2 linked regions of the Homo sapiens genome follow. The protein of the gene in region 2 interacts with the protein of the main gene of each other region in a biochemical or structural test. Each region holds a gene or a part of one and is shown on either strand. Other genes may lie near its edges.

Evidence for each region.
Region 1: the proteins of MLX (region 2) and MLXIP form a complex in vitro, tested with the Homo sapiens proteins (2 studies listed by BioGRID, with this or other methods).

The regions. Positions count from the first base shown.
Region 1 is NC_000012.12:122,074,855-122,081,770, reverse strand, and holds the start of MLXIP (MLX-interacting protein), read right to left. Parts: upstream 3,016-6,916; 5' UTR 2,918-3,015; coding exon 2,505-2,917; intron 1-2,504. UniProt on the Homo sapiens protein: Binds DNA as a heterodimer with MLX and activates transcription. Binds to the canonical E box sequence 5'-CACGTG-3'. Plays a role in transcriptional activation of glycolytic target genes. Involved in glucose-responsive gene regulation.
Region 2 is NC_000017.11:42,563,253-42,570,118, forward strand, and holds the start of MLX (max-like protein X), read left to right. Parts: upstream 1-3,847; 5' UTR 3,848-3,872; coding exon 3,873-3,914; coding exon of another isoform or gene 3,915-4,076; intron 4,077-4,366; coding exon 4,367-4,403; intron 4,404-5,217; coding exon 5,218-5,307; intron 5,308-5,584; coding exon 5,585-5,691; intron 5,692-5,951; coding exon 5,952-6,051; intron 6,052-6,254; coding exon 6,255-6,354; intron 6,355-6,729; coding exon 6,730-6,866. Other genes in the region: COASY (bifunctional coenzyme A synthase), read left to right, coding at 1-70, 709-923, 1,194-1,325, 1,457-1,646, 1,731-1,795, 1,975-2,059, 2,219-2,316, 2,407-2,553 and 1 more. UniProt on the Homo sapiens protein: Transcription regulator. Forms a sequence-specific DNA-binding protein complex with MAD1, MAD4, MNT, WBSCR14 and MLXIP which recognizes the core sequence 5'-CACGTG-3'. The TCFL4-MAD1, TCFL4-MAD4, TCFL4-WBSCR14 complexes are transcriptional repressors.

The DNA of each region.
Region 1 (6,916 bases), on a different chromosome or scaffold from region 2:
CCGGCAGGGAAGGCATGAACCCCACCAGGATGGAAGCCAGACAGGCTCTGAGGTTAAGTCTTCTTTCTGCCCTGCCCCCAATCCCTTTTTTTCTTTCTTTCTTTTTCTTTTTTAGAGATGGGGATCTTGCTACATTGCCCAGGCTGATCTTGAACTCCTGGGCTCAAGCAATCCCCCACCTCGGCCTCCCAAAGTGCTGGGACTACAGGCATGAGCCACCACGCCCCGCGTTGCCTCCGATCTCAACCTTCCTTCCCTGAAAGCCAGGTAGCAGTTCTCACTAGGAGAGCTGGGGTCAGAAACTCACCTTCCTCTAGTTTCTTTCTGTGCCACAGACTACAGCCCAGACAACTGGTTTTGAGTCATTTGTCTGTCATCCATACCAAAGTTCTACACTGCCAACTAAACTCAGCACTGGACAAACCAGCCTCACACAGACAGACAAAGGGCATCTTCATGAGAAATGACTGGACAGATCCCATCCGAGGGCCTGTGGTGGTAGACCTTAGGTGGCCGACCTTAGGCAGCAGGAGACCTTAGGCACAGGGAAAAGCAGCGAAAGTGAGAGAGCCAAGAGAGCAAGATAAGCTTCTTGCACCAAACTGATGGTGCATTTTGCAATCAAGAAAGTTAACTGAGCAACGGCCAGCTGCCAAAATATTTTTGAGAGAAATGAAAAAAAAAATGCCATTACTAAAATTATTTGGTGTTGTTTAATAAGCCTTTAGGTTATCCAAACAAGAGTGCAAAGGGGAGACTGATTTAGTTTTCATTTAGCAGAGCTTACTTAGGTGAGACCTTTCCAGTCCATGCCCCCCGTGACTCATCCATTCTCTCCCTGTATATGTAGAAGTTTATATTAAAATAAAGAAGAGGATTAAGTTTTCTTAATAAGATACATTCCAGTCTTTCACCTCGAGCTTTGTTTGAAAAGGCTCTCTCGAGGCATAGCATATGCTGCGATCCAGTCGGGTTTGATTCCAATGGAACTGCTCAAAATCAGAGACTGGAGGGCGCACAGGGCTGCAGCCTCAACACCATTTGTTTTTTAAAAAGCAGAACATCTTTACAGGCTCAGTGCCAGCTCAAACTGGCAAGACCAGAGAATCAGCAGAGACTGACCAATGTGCCGGGTAAGGGGGATGGGAGGAGGAGCTACGGGAACAGATCATCAGGGAAACCTTCAAGAGAGGAAATAGGGGTGTTTCAGGAACATAACAAAGAACAAGTTGACTAATCGTTTATTCCAGGGACCGCGGCGGTGAGGGGGGTGCCATCCAGGGCTAAGTATCTAATATTTTAACTTCAGGTAAAAGCATAACATTTAAACCTGGATATGCTTGGGGCTCACAGCTCTCTTAAAAAGGTGAGGTGAGAGGGGGCAAGATATTCCTGCTCTTTTATTACGCTGTTTATGGAGTCTCCTAGGAAACTTCTCCCGCGATGCCTCCAGAGCAGACCTAAGACAGCCCCCGCTAGTCCAGTTCCTAATGCAATAAGCTTAACTCAGCAGAGATCCCATCATGAGCTTTCTGCAGGGCCAAGCTGCTCAAGGCCGCTGCTGCCAGTCCAAAGAAGTTCTGTTGCGCAGACAAAAAAGTTACCTGCAGCAAATACCTAATATTCATAGTGGGAAAGGGAGAGAGAGTGAAAAAGCGCTTTAATCTTTGAGGGCCAGGCATTTTCTGTGACTTGGAAAAGAGGAATCTCTGCCCAGAGCCGAATCCACATGTCAGAACGGTGTCTGGGATGTCTGCCCTCAACAATGACATCTCCCTCATATAATGTTTCAGGACCGGCCAGAAAACCCTCCAACTTGCCAGAAGGACAGACTGCACCTCCAACAGCTGTGGCACCAAAAGTCTTCTTAGGAGGCACCCAAAGCCCTCCCGAGATGGGGGCGGGCCTCCCGATGAGGTTGTAAGGGGGCCAGCCTCCAGGTGCAGGGACACCTAACTCTGGCCAAGCACTGGAATAAGCAATTTACCTATCTCACTCCATCCCCACAACAGCCCCTTGGAGGCAGACACTACAGTCATTCCCCTTTTATAAAGGAGGAAACAGGCTCCGAGGTGTTACACAACCATTAAACAGCAGAGCCAGCCTCCAGTCACCCCGAACAGGTGGTCCTGACCGCTGCTGGATATGGGGGAAACACACAAAGCGTTTGGAGGAAGGAGTCGATAGAGTCGGGTAACACAAGATGCAGCCAGTGTTTATACCTCTTCCTCGTCCAACATCGGTGGTCCCAGGACACTGGAGGGGAGGGCCTGGATGGGGAACGTGAACCCGAAAGGACCCCGGCACTGCTGGCAGGGGAAGAGGCCAGGACCCCGGCTCCTCTGGCAACGCGGGGAACCCCAGATCCATAAACCCTCCCGAAGGAGGAAGACCCAAAGGGAATGCATGAAGCCACGGGGTTGCCAGGCGGCCCTTCCCTCCACGCTTGTTTTGTCAAACAAGGGCCTCCGGCCGGGGCCTCAGGGGGTCGCGGGGGTCCCTACCTGTAGGCCAAAGTCATGCACTCGAAGAGCTTGGTGAGCGAGGCGTCGATGGACAGGTGGCAGGAGCTAGTCTTGCCGAAGCTGTAGGTCTGGCACGTCTGTTTGTTGACCGTGTCGAAATCGTAGCCCTTCTTGGGCGGGTGCTCTCGGTGCGGCGACGACACCATGAAGTGGCCGCTGTGGATGATCTGCTGGCGGCGCGGAGGTTCCTCGCGGCCCGGCCCGGCCCGAGGCGGCGGTGGCGCGGCGCTCGCGTGGGCCCGGGCCGGGGTGGCCGCGCCGGAGGCGGGCGGCGGGGACGGCTCATCCGTGTCCGAGTCGTCGTCGTCCTCGGACACCTGGGGCTTGAGCAGCACCTGGCGGCCCCGGCTGCGAGGCCGGCGCGGGGAGCACATGAAGACGTCGGCGGCCATGAGAAGGGCTCGGCCGGGGGCATCCCCCGGAGCCCGGGGCAACGCGACAAGCGCGCGAGGCAGAGGGGCGCCGGCCCGGCCCGGCCCGCGCGCCGACTGTCCGCGAGCGCGCGGCGCGGCGGGAGGGGGAGGGCTCCGGCCCCGGCGTGACGTCACCGAGGCGTCTGGGCCAATCGGCTGCCCGCGTCGGCCTCTTAAAGGCGCAGGGGAACCTTTCCTTAGCTAGGCGGACCAAAAAAAAAAAAAAAGGGGAAGCGGAGGCCACGCCTCCCGGCCGTGCCCCTCGCCACCTCCTCCTCTCCCGGCGTCCGTGGGTGCTGAGGGACACGGTGGCCGGGCGGAGCGGCTCGCCGGTGTCGCGACCTGGGAGAGGCGTCGGCAGAGTGGGGCCGTGCTAGTCCCGCCCCCGCCCCGCTCCGCGCCCCGGGAGTCGCCCTGTGGCTTCGCCGCAGGCCCGGCCGGCTCCACGTGGTGGGTGCGGGTGGGGCTCCTCGGCCTCCAGGCCCTGCTTTTTCCCTGCCGGGCGGTACCGAGTCCTCGCAGCTCACGCCTGAGTTTGCCGGACGTGGTGGCTATTGTCCTCATTATTCTCATCGTATTGATGGGAACACTGGGTGGCTGAATACCGACAGGATTTTTCTCAGACCTGGAGTCCACAGAGCTGGGAACTTGCTTCCCCTGCGCGTCCCCAGCTCGGCGCAGCTGTTGAGTGGCAGCGCCCCTGAGCCCAGCGACCTCCAGACCCCAGCTCTTTTAACTTCAACTCAGCATGCTGTTGTTATTTTTTTAAAGTTTGACGGACGAGCCAGCCCCCGAAACAATTCTAAAAGGGGAGTATCTGAGCCAGAGTTTTCTTCTCTGTCAAATGGTGAACAATTCCGTTTCCTCAGAAACTTGGGACAGTTTAAAAATGGCTATAGTGGGGCGCGGTGGCTCATGCCTGTAATCCTAGCACTTTTGGAGGCCGAGGCGGGTGGATCACTTGAGGCCAGAAGTTCAAGACCAGCCAGGCCAACACGGTGAAACCCTGTCTCTACTAAAAATAACAAAAATTAGCCGGTCGTAGTGGTGCACCCCTGTAATCCCAGCTACTCGGGAGGCTGAGGCAGGAGAATCGCTTGAATCCGGGAGGTGGAGGTTGCAGTGAGCCGAGATTGCGCCATTGCACTCTAGCCTGGGCGACAGAGCGAGGCCCTGTCTCAAAAAGAAAAATAAATACAAATAAAAATGGCTATAAGTTGCTTAGCAGGCAGGCTGGCACAAAATGAGCGCTAAATAAATGTGCCACAGGTTGGAGGATTTGGATCAACCAGACCAGAGGTGCCTAGAAATTGCCAATAGTCCACCACTATTTGACCTGCAGAAACGGCAACTTCGCGTGGCACAACCTAACTGACAGACACCTCTAGAAAGCTGTCAAGGTTTCCGGGGCTCAAAGCCAGTCTGGGGTGGGGGTGGCAGGGCATCAGAAGAGCCAGTGAGGCCCATGAGCCAGGAACACCCATCCTAATCCTAGCAGGGCGTCCAGAGTCCACAGCCACTCCTGCACTCTGCTTTGTTTTATTGTTGTTTTGTTTTTTGAGACAGAGTCTTGCTCTGTCACCCAAGGCTGTAGCGCAGTGGTGCAATCACCATGTTGGCCAGGCCGGTCTGGAACTCCTGACCTCAAGTGAGGCCTGCCTTGGACTCCCAAAGTGCTGGGATGACAGGCATGAGCCACCGCGCTGGCTCTGCACTCGGCTTTGAAGCTGGTTTCAGTTCCAGATTTGAGTGGGGGGTGAGTCCCCTGCCCCACCCTCTTCCTGACAAAGGCCTCCTGAAGGGAACAGAGGGCTCTCACCAAAATGGCTCCATTAACTTATTTCCAAATGTCTGTATGGAAAAATGGGCTGGATGACTGGCAGTTTTCAGGCATGAGTTCTAGATTTCCCTCTTCAACCTACTACTGTTCCCAATGCTGGTTACAAGTGTTTAAAAGTCCATCCTTTGAGTTGCCTTCCTTTCTCTCAAGACTTGTCTCCTTGGTCCTTGGTAAGTTTACATGCCCAGCCACTTTTTTTTTTTTTTTTTTTTGAGACAGGATCTGGCTCTTTCACCTGGACTGGAGTGGAGTGGTGCCATCATGGCTCACAGCACCCTCAACCTCCAGGGCTCAGGTGATCCTCCCACCTCAACTTCCCAAGTAGCAGGACCACAGGTGCACACCACCGTGCCCTGCTAATTTTTGTACTTTTTATAGAGATGGGGTCTCGCCATGCTGCCCAGCCTGGTCTCGTCTCGAGTTCCTGACCTCAAGTGATCCTCCTGCCTCAGCCTCCCAAGGTGCTAGAATTACAGGTGTGAGCCACCATGCCCTGCTTTTTTGTCTTTGTGTTTACCTATATTTTCTTTCTTTTTTTTTTTTTTTGAGACAGGGTCTCACTGTGTCACATTGGTGTGATCGTGGCTCACTGTAGCCTCAACCTCCCCTGCCCAAGCTATCCTCCCACCTCAGTCTCCCGAGTAGCTGTGACCACAGGTGGGCACCACCACACCCAGCTAATGTTTAATTTTTTTGTAGAGATGGAATTTCCCTATGTTGCCCAGGCTGGTCTCAAACTCCTGGGCTCAGGCAATCCTCCTGCCTCAACCTCCCAAAATGCTGGGATTACAGGCATGAGCCACCACACCTGGCCTGTATTTTCTAATTTCCAAAATAAACATGTATTACTTATATACACATTTTTAACTTAAAAAGTTAACATCAGTTTCCTGGGAGGAAATAAGCCTTAAAGCTGAGGTTGCAAAGTGGCAACCCATAGACCATATTCAGTGCAGAAACATGCCTTGTTTAATCCCACCGTCAATTCCTAAGAGACTGTATTAGGGAAGACTCTTGGGGAAAATTGCAGTTAAAAATGCAAAAAGCAAAGGACCACTGCATGGGTGGTCCAGTCACGGAAGGTGCTCCAAGCTCACAATCAATGTCTGTAAGGTTAAGGAGGTGGTCTCGACTTCCCCTCCTGCTGAGTAGCGGGCAGCATCGGCAGGAGAGTGGCCATGTAGGATGGCGACCCAGGGAGCTAAAAATCCCATGATGACAAGGAGCTCCCACACCCAGACAAGCCACCAAAACCAGAGCCTCACAGCGTTGTCGTCTCTTCTCCACGAATCAGAAGAAACACTGGATTGGAATCAAATCAGCAGTCAGACAAATAGAAATACCTAAGTATGAAGGGTTACACACCAGCACAAGTCAGCAAATAATTAAGGAAAGCCAGCACTCTGGGAGAAAGCGGGTACCTGAGAACTAGCAAGGGGGAGAAAGTTAACAAATATTTTAAAAATAACTAATAGTTTAGGAAAGAACAGAAGATTCTGTACCATGGAGCAATAATAGCCCATTATGAAAAAGAGGCAAATGAGGTCTTGGAAAATAAATATAAATATACAAATATACAAGTATGATTTTTTAAAAGTTGAGTTGAAACGAAAATATAGAAAAAAAGCAAAGTGAATAAAGCTGAAAAACACAGCAGTAAGCTAAAAGATTAAACTGAAGGTTTATATAAAAAGTAACCAGACATGGTGGCACATGCCTCTAGCCCCAGCTACTTGGGAGGTGACGCACGAGAATCGCTTGAACCCGGGAGGCAGAGTTTGCACCACTGCCCTCCAGCCTGGGCAACAGAGCAAGACTCTGTCTCCAAAAATACACAGGCCAGGCACGGTAGCTCATGCCTGTAATCCCAGCACTTTGGGAGGCTGAGGTGGGCAGATCACCTGAGGTCGGGAGTTTCAGACCAGCCTGGCCAACATGGTGAAACCCCGTCTCTACTAAAAATGCAAAATTAGCCAGGCATGGTGGCGCATGCCTGTAATCCCAGCTACTCAGGAAGCTGAGGCAGGAGAATCACTTGAACCCAAGAGGCAGAGGTTTTGGTGAGCCGAGATCACGCCATTGCACTCCAGCCTGGGCAACAAGAGCGAACTCCATCTCAAAATAAATAAACAAACTGA
Region 2 (6,866 bases):
CTCAGTGTCGCGTGCATCCTGGCCCAGGAGCAGCTTGTGGTGGGAGTAGCAGACAAAGATCTGTTGAAGAGTGAGTAAGAGGGACCCTGGACTAGGGTGGAGGATCCCCAAATCTCCCCACCCCCGACCCTTATGCCGAGATCAAGGAAGGGTAGGGCCATTCATTACTTCCCACCCTTCCCAAATGTCACAGTGGTTGACACTCAATTGGTGCTAAGGCCATTTTGTCAAATGAACAGCTTTCTCAGCATGTGGTCCAGTCACCACTCAATCAGAATACCCCAAATGTGAAGCAAAGGGATCTGCATTTTAGCAAGTTTTCCAGGTGATACACCCTAATGAGACACTGGGAATGAATGGGTGAGTGAGCTGCAGGTAGCAGTGCCACAGACAGGAGGAGGAAACTCAAGCATGGCATGGGTCTTGGAATTTTCCATCTGCCTCTGATGCCCTCTGGCACTGCTCGTTCTCTGGAGTGGTTTCCTGGTGGCTTATTCTCTGGACACATGCCAGCCCTTGGAGTGACTATTGTGCTTGCCTGTTTCTTCACCTTCATGCTCCCCTCACCATCACCATAGGCCTTACCAGTTGAACCCTTTCTGCCACCCCCTCTGGGGATACTGTACTTAGGGACACTTTTTCCCAAACTGGCCCATACTCTCCTCCCCAATAAAAAGATCTCACTGTTCTTCTGGGCTCCTTCCCCAGGCAAGTTGCTCCCTGAGCTGCTCCAACCTTATACAGAACGTGTGGAACATCTGAGTGAATTCCTGGTGGACATCAAGCCCTCCTTGACTTTTGATGTCATCCCCCTGCTGGACCCCTATGGGCCCGCTGGCTCTGACCCCTCCCTGGAGTTCCTGGTGGTCAGCGAGGAGACCTATCGTGGGGGGATGGCCATCAACCGCTTCCGCCTTGAGAATGTAACCCCTGAGGGAGACTGGCAGAGGGAGTGGATGGGGGACGGGGAAGGCCATTTTGAGGGGGCTGTTGGAAGTACCATGGCCCCAGAGGAGAGAAGTGGGGGCTCAGGGTGGTGGGAAGAAGCAAGGAGGAACTGGTTCTCAGTTTGCCCGCTGAGTCGGAGGAGGAGGAGCCTGGGTAGGAAGGGGAGGATGGGGGGGCAGGTTGGATGTCAGGGTCTTCCTCTCACTCCCTCCTTCCCTCTTTTTACCCTTTCCTCTTTACCCCAGGACCTGGAGGAACTTGCTTTGTACCAGATCCAGCTGCTGAAGGACCTCAGACATACAGAGAATGAAGAGGACAAAGTCAGCTCCTCCAGCTTCCGCCAGCGAATGTTGGGGAACCTGCTTCGGCCTCCATATGTAAGCTCCTCTCCCTCCTTCCCTCCTGCTTGGTGTCCTGGCAATGCTGGAGAGTAGAAGCTGAGGGGCTCAGCCCCAGGCATGAGGCTGAGGGCCCCAGTAACTGTGGGTTCCCTTTCACCTATCCCCAGGAAAGGCCAGAGCTCCCCACATGTCTCTATGTAATTGGGCTGACTGGCATCAGTGGCTCTGGGAAGAGCTCAATAGCTCAGCGACTGAAGGGCCTGGGGGCGTTTGTCATTGACAGTGACCACCTGGGTCATCGGGCCTATGCCCCAGGTGGCCCTGCCTACCAGCCTGTGGTGGAGGCCTTTGGAACAGGTAATAACTGGGGAAGGCTGAAAGTGGCCTGGAGTGAGGAGCTAGCCAGGCCTCTGTGCTCAGTTGTCTGTCTGTGTTGTCCAGATATTCTCCATAAAGATGGCATCATCAACAGGAAGGTCCTAGGCAGCCGGGTGTTTGGGAATAAGGTAAACAATAACTTCCTAAGGGCTCCTAAGCCGCTACTAGACCCAGGGGTCAGGGTCCAGTGGACCTCTCTGGTCTGGCCCAGAATGCCATTTCCATTGATCTGTTCCCAACACCACCTTGCTCGGGCTGGCTGCCTCTTCTAGAGAAGGTAACCTCTGCCCTCTGTTCCCCTCCCCAGAAGCAGCTGAAGATACTCACGGACATTATGTGGCCAATTATCGCAAAGCTGGCCCGAGAGGAGATGGATCGGGCTGTGGCTGAGGGTGAGTGGGAGGGAGGATGGCAACAGCTAAGGGGACAGTTAAGCTGTTTCTTCCCCTGGGAGCTTCCCTGCCCAACGTGGGACTGTCTGTTCACCCTGGGACTGTGTTCTGCCTGGGAGAACGTCGGCACTGCTGGCGGTGACTGGGGTCTCCCCACAGGAAAGCGTGTGTGTGTGATTGATGCCGCTGTGTTGCTTGAAGCCGGCTGGCAGAACCTGGTCCATGAGGTGTGGACTGCTGTCATCCCAGAGACTGAGGTATCTCGCCCCACCCCCCACACCATCCCTACTGCAGATCCTATCCTGTGAGCTGGAATTCTTCCTGACAAATGTCTCGTCTGTGCTCAGGCTGTAAGACGCATTGTGGAGAGGGATGGCCTCAGTGAAGCCGCGGCTCAAAGCCGGCTGCAGAGCCAGATGAGCGGGCAGCAGCTTGTGGAACAGAGCCACGTGGTGCTCAGCACCTTGTGGGAGCCGCATATCACCCAACGCCAGGTTGGTGCCCAGGGCAAGGCCGGGTTGTGGGGAAGGAGTCTCCAGTGGGTACTGCCTGACCCTGCCCTCTCTTCCTCCCAACATCCTGGCCTGTCTGAAGGTGGAGAAAGCCTGGGCCCTCTTGCAGAAGCGCATTCCCAAGACTCATCAGGCCCTCGACTGAAAAGTTCTCAGTGGGGCCAGACTGGCTCCTGGAGCTGACAAGCGACCCCGTGGTGAGGAGAAATGGGGGCCTTGATGCTCACCCTGGTTCAGGCCCAGAGGTCCAAGCTATACTGTGCAGGACATGGCCAGGCCTGGTGGACACAGGAAGCCTACCCAACACGCTGGTATTTGGCCAACACTGAGGATGTGGTTCATGGGGGAGCAGTCCCCTCCCCACTCTTGCCCATGGGTGACTCTTACCCACAGCTGACTAGGGCCAGCGCAAATACTGGAACCTGTAACAGAATTAAAGGTGAATGTTCTGAGATGTTGCTTGTATGGTGTCTGCTTCCTGTTCCAATGCCCCTAAGTATCTTTGGGATCCTTAAGCCACAAGTGCAGGGCCCAGGCCTGAGCTGGAAGCCTGGGCAATGCAGTGGTTAAGAGAATGGCCTTTGAGGCTAGCCAGAGGCGAGCTTTGGCCCTCCCACTGACCAGCTGTGTTCTTCTGAGTAAGGTGTAGACTTTCTAGGTACTGCCGTGTTTTATTGTTTTTGTTTTGTTTTTAATATGAGAGGCCGCATAACCTAGCTAGCAGGTTCTTTGCAAGGGTTCATTCCACATGCATCCTGCCAGACACTGGGCTGGGTGTTGGAAGATCAGCCTTCCGCGCGCCAGGCGGGGCCTCTGCCCTCACAGAGCTTGCAGCCTGGTGGGGTCGGACGATGTGGCTGGGGGCTTCTCTGCCCGGTTCCTGACACACCGGCCAGCAGTGCAGGTCCGGTGAGCGCGGGGAGGCCGCCCTCAGGGTAACGTGGGGAGCCGGCCGGCCGGACAGTGCGCGTGCACACACTATCTGCGGCGGTGTGCTGACAAGCCAATTGAGGGGACTCCATCTTACAAAACGCGCTTCATGTCGCCGCCATTCCACTGCCTAACCCGGGGAGGGCAGGCACGGCGGGGAGCAGTCTCGAAGGAGGCTGGCGCCAGGCCAAGCGCCGGGCCTTGACGGCTGGAACCGTGGAGTAAAGTCTTTGGGCTGCGCATGCGCGATGCTTCGCCCTGCCCCACCTCTCGGTCGCGGATTGGCGGGCGCGGGTCACGTGGGCACGCCACCCGCTTCCTCGCCGCAGGGGGCCCGCCCGCTGGCCCGTTTCCGGTCCGGTGGGTACAAGATGACGGAGCCGGGCGCCTCTCCCGAGGACCCTTGGGTCAAGGCAAGCCCCGTGGGCGCGCACGCCGGCGAGGGGAGGGCGGGTCGGGCTCGTGCACGTAGGGGGGCCGGAAGACGAGGGGCTTCCCTCCTGTCCCCAAAGTCCCCCACGCTCTCCGTGCCCCGGGGCTGCAGAGAAGACAGCTCTCACCCCGCGTGTGCCAAGGTGGGGAGACAAACGAGGCGTGTGCGCGCGAGTCGGGGGAACGGGGCACTGGGGTGGAGTAGGGGCGGAAGGGATCATACACAGGGGAGGCACTCGCACGCCCTAGCCTGTGCCAGTCTCGGGGGACTCATTAAGCTGCCCGCGCACCCCGGGCTGTGTGTGTGCAAGCGCGCAGGGTGACAGAGGCGCCTTCCCGGAATGGGGGGCGCGCTGTGCGTGCCTGCAGTGGAAGGGGCGCCTCCCCCTAGGGGCGGAGGTCTGACGGGCCCTTCCCGTGCTCTGTGCCGCAGGTGGAGTATGCCTACAGCGACAACAGCCTGGACCCCGGTGAGTAGCTGCCCCATCTTAAGCTCTAGAGGGACACTCCCGCCCAGGCTCTCTAGATTCTTGTGGCGTTGCCAACCACGCCTGAGCACAGTCCACTCTCCCTGAGCAGAGTTCCTGGCTTGAGACAGCAGGAGCTGAAGGACAAGGGCAGAAAACAACTGAGGGTGACACCTAGTTCCCTCTGCTCTGGAACAGGGAAGTGGTGGAACTGATCACTCACCACTCAGTGGAGCAGCTGATCACTCACACCCTCATCACGTCCACATGCCCGTTTGTGAGCCAGGGGGGTATCATGCAGGCCTATGGAGCAGTGTAGACACTAGGGAGCAGAGCACTGCAGCGTGGTCTGGCAGGAAGTGGGGGGCCCAGTATGGTTGGCTTTGGGTTGAAGGGAAGAGGTCAGCATTTAAGAAAGCCATTGTGTGGCCGGGCGCGGTGGCTCACCCCTGTAATCCCAGCACTTTGGGAGGCCGAGGCAGGCGGATCACGAGGTCAGGAGACCGAGACCATCCTGGCTAACACGGTGAAACCCCGTCTCCACTAAAAAATACAAAAAAATTAGCCGGGCGTGGTGGCGGGCGCCTGTAGTCCCAGCTACTCGGGAGGCTGAGGCAGGAGAATGGCGTGAACCTGGGAGGCGGAGCTTGCAGTGAGCCGAGATCGCGCCACTGCACTCTAGCCTGGGCGACTGAGCGAGACTCTGTCTAAAAAAAAAATAAATAAATAAAAGAAAGCCATTGTGTCCTACAGGTGTCTGAGGGTCTGGCAATGTTCCCCACCCCACCCCTTAGTGATTGGGGCCTCTCTTTTCCAGGGCTTTTTGTAGAAAGCACCCGCAAGGGGAGTGTAGTGTCCAGAGCTAATAGCATCGGTTCCACCAGTGCCTCTTCTGTCCCCAACACAGGTAGGCAGTAACATCCCCCCCGACCTCGGGGGGCTCAGATATGTCATAATTGTAGTACCTTTCCTAGACAGGGAAGCCCCAGCCATCCACACAGGGGTGCTGGAGCCAAAGTATCAGACACAAGGTCTCACCATCTTTCACCTCATCTGGAACATTAGGTGGTTCTGTCCATCTGCCTTCTCTGGACACCAGGTTCTTCCCAGCTGGGGAAAGGTGGGCTAGCTGGACCCCACTGGGCCCCAAGATGACCTTTCCCTGCCCCCATCTCTGAGCGTAGATGATGAGGACAGTGATTACCACCAGGAGGCCTACAAGGAGTCCTACAAAGACCGGCGGCGGCGCGCACACACTCAGGCTGAGCAGAAGAGGAGGGACGCCATCAAGGTGAACAGGGAGGCCTGTGCCTCAGCCAGTGCGGGAGGGCCCTGCATAGTTTAGCTTCCCTGTGCCCTGACCCACTCAGACAGTCCCAGGCACCCTAGGGGGTGGGCAGGTAGTATAGTCCCAGGCACAAACACCTCCCTTGCAGCCTTCCCACCCCATTGAGTTTGTGAGCATAGAACTTGGTGTCATGGAGGAACTTTGTGCCATTTTGCTTTAATCTCTCAGGGTTAAAGAACCCATTTCCCCTGCTGTTTCCACAGAGAGGCTATGATGACCTTCAGACCATCGTCCCCACTTGCCAGCAGCAGGACTTCTCCATTGGCTCCCAAAAGCTCAGCAAAGCCATCGTTCTACAAAAGAGTATGGCTAGGGAAAGCACTGGAGGGGATGGAGCCAAGCGGGGCTGTGAAGAGGCCAGTGCCTCCTACCCACCCATGGCTCGGCCTTGGTGTGGTGATTGCCATGGGATAGTTGGGGTCTGGGGTAAGGGGAACAAAGTCAGCCTTATCTTCTTGGTTGAGAATACTTCTGTACCTGTCCTTTTTTTCTTGCCCCCACCCTAGCCATTGACTACATTCAGTTTTTGCACAAGGAGAAGAAAAAGCAGGAGGAGGAGGTGTCCACGTTACGCAAGGATGTCACCGCCCTAAAGATCATGAAAGTGTAAGAGGGGTGCTGAATGGGGGGAACCAGAACTTCTGAGGCAACTTCATTGCACACCCTCCCTTGTTCAAAGGCCACATCAGTTACTGCTGTACAGATAATACTCTTAGTTCCTGAGCTAGCCAGTAGGACTGTGTATCCCCAACTGTCCTTACACATGGCAGACACTCAGGAAATGCCTGTTGGATTAATGTAAGGAAGGTTGGAGAGAGAGGGCCACCTTTCCTGACCTGGAAGCAGTATCTCCCTGATACTGAACCCCACCCAGAAGCTCTCTGGGGCTGCCATTCCTGGGAGTACACAGGATAGTCCCGTCATTCTTCTTGGGTGGGCGGAGCTGCTGCAGCACCTCAGCCCTGGCCTGCATGCTTTTAGGAACTATGAGCAGATTGTGAAGGCACACCAGGACAACCCCCATGAAGGGGAGGACCAGGTCTCTGACCAGGTCAAGTTCAACGTGTTTCAAGGCATCATGGATTCCCTGTTCCAGTCCTTCAATGCCTCCATCTCAG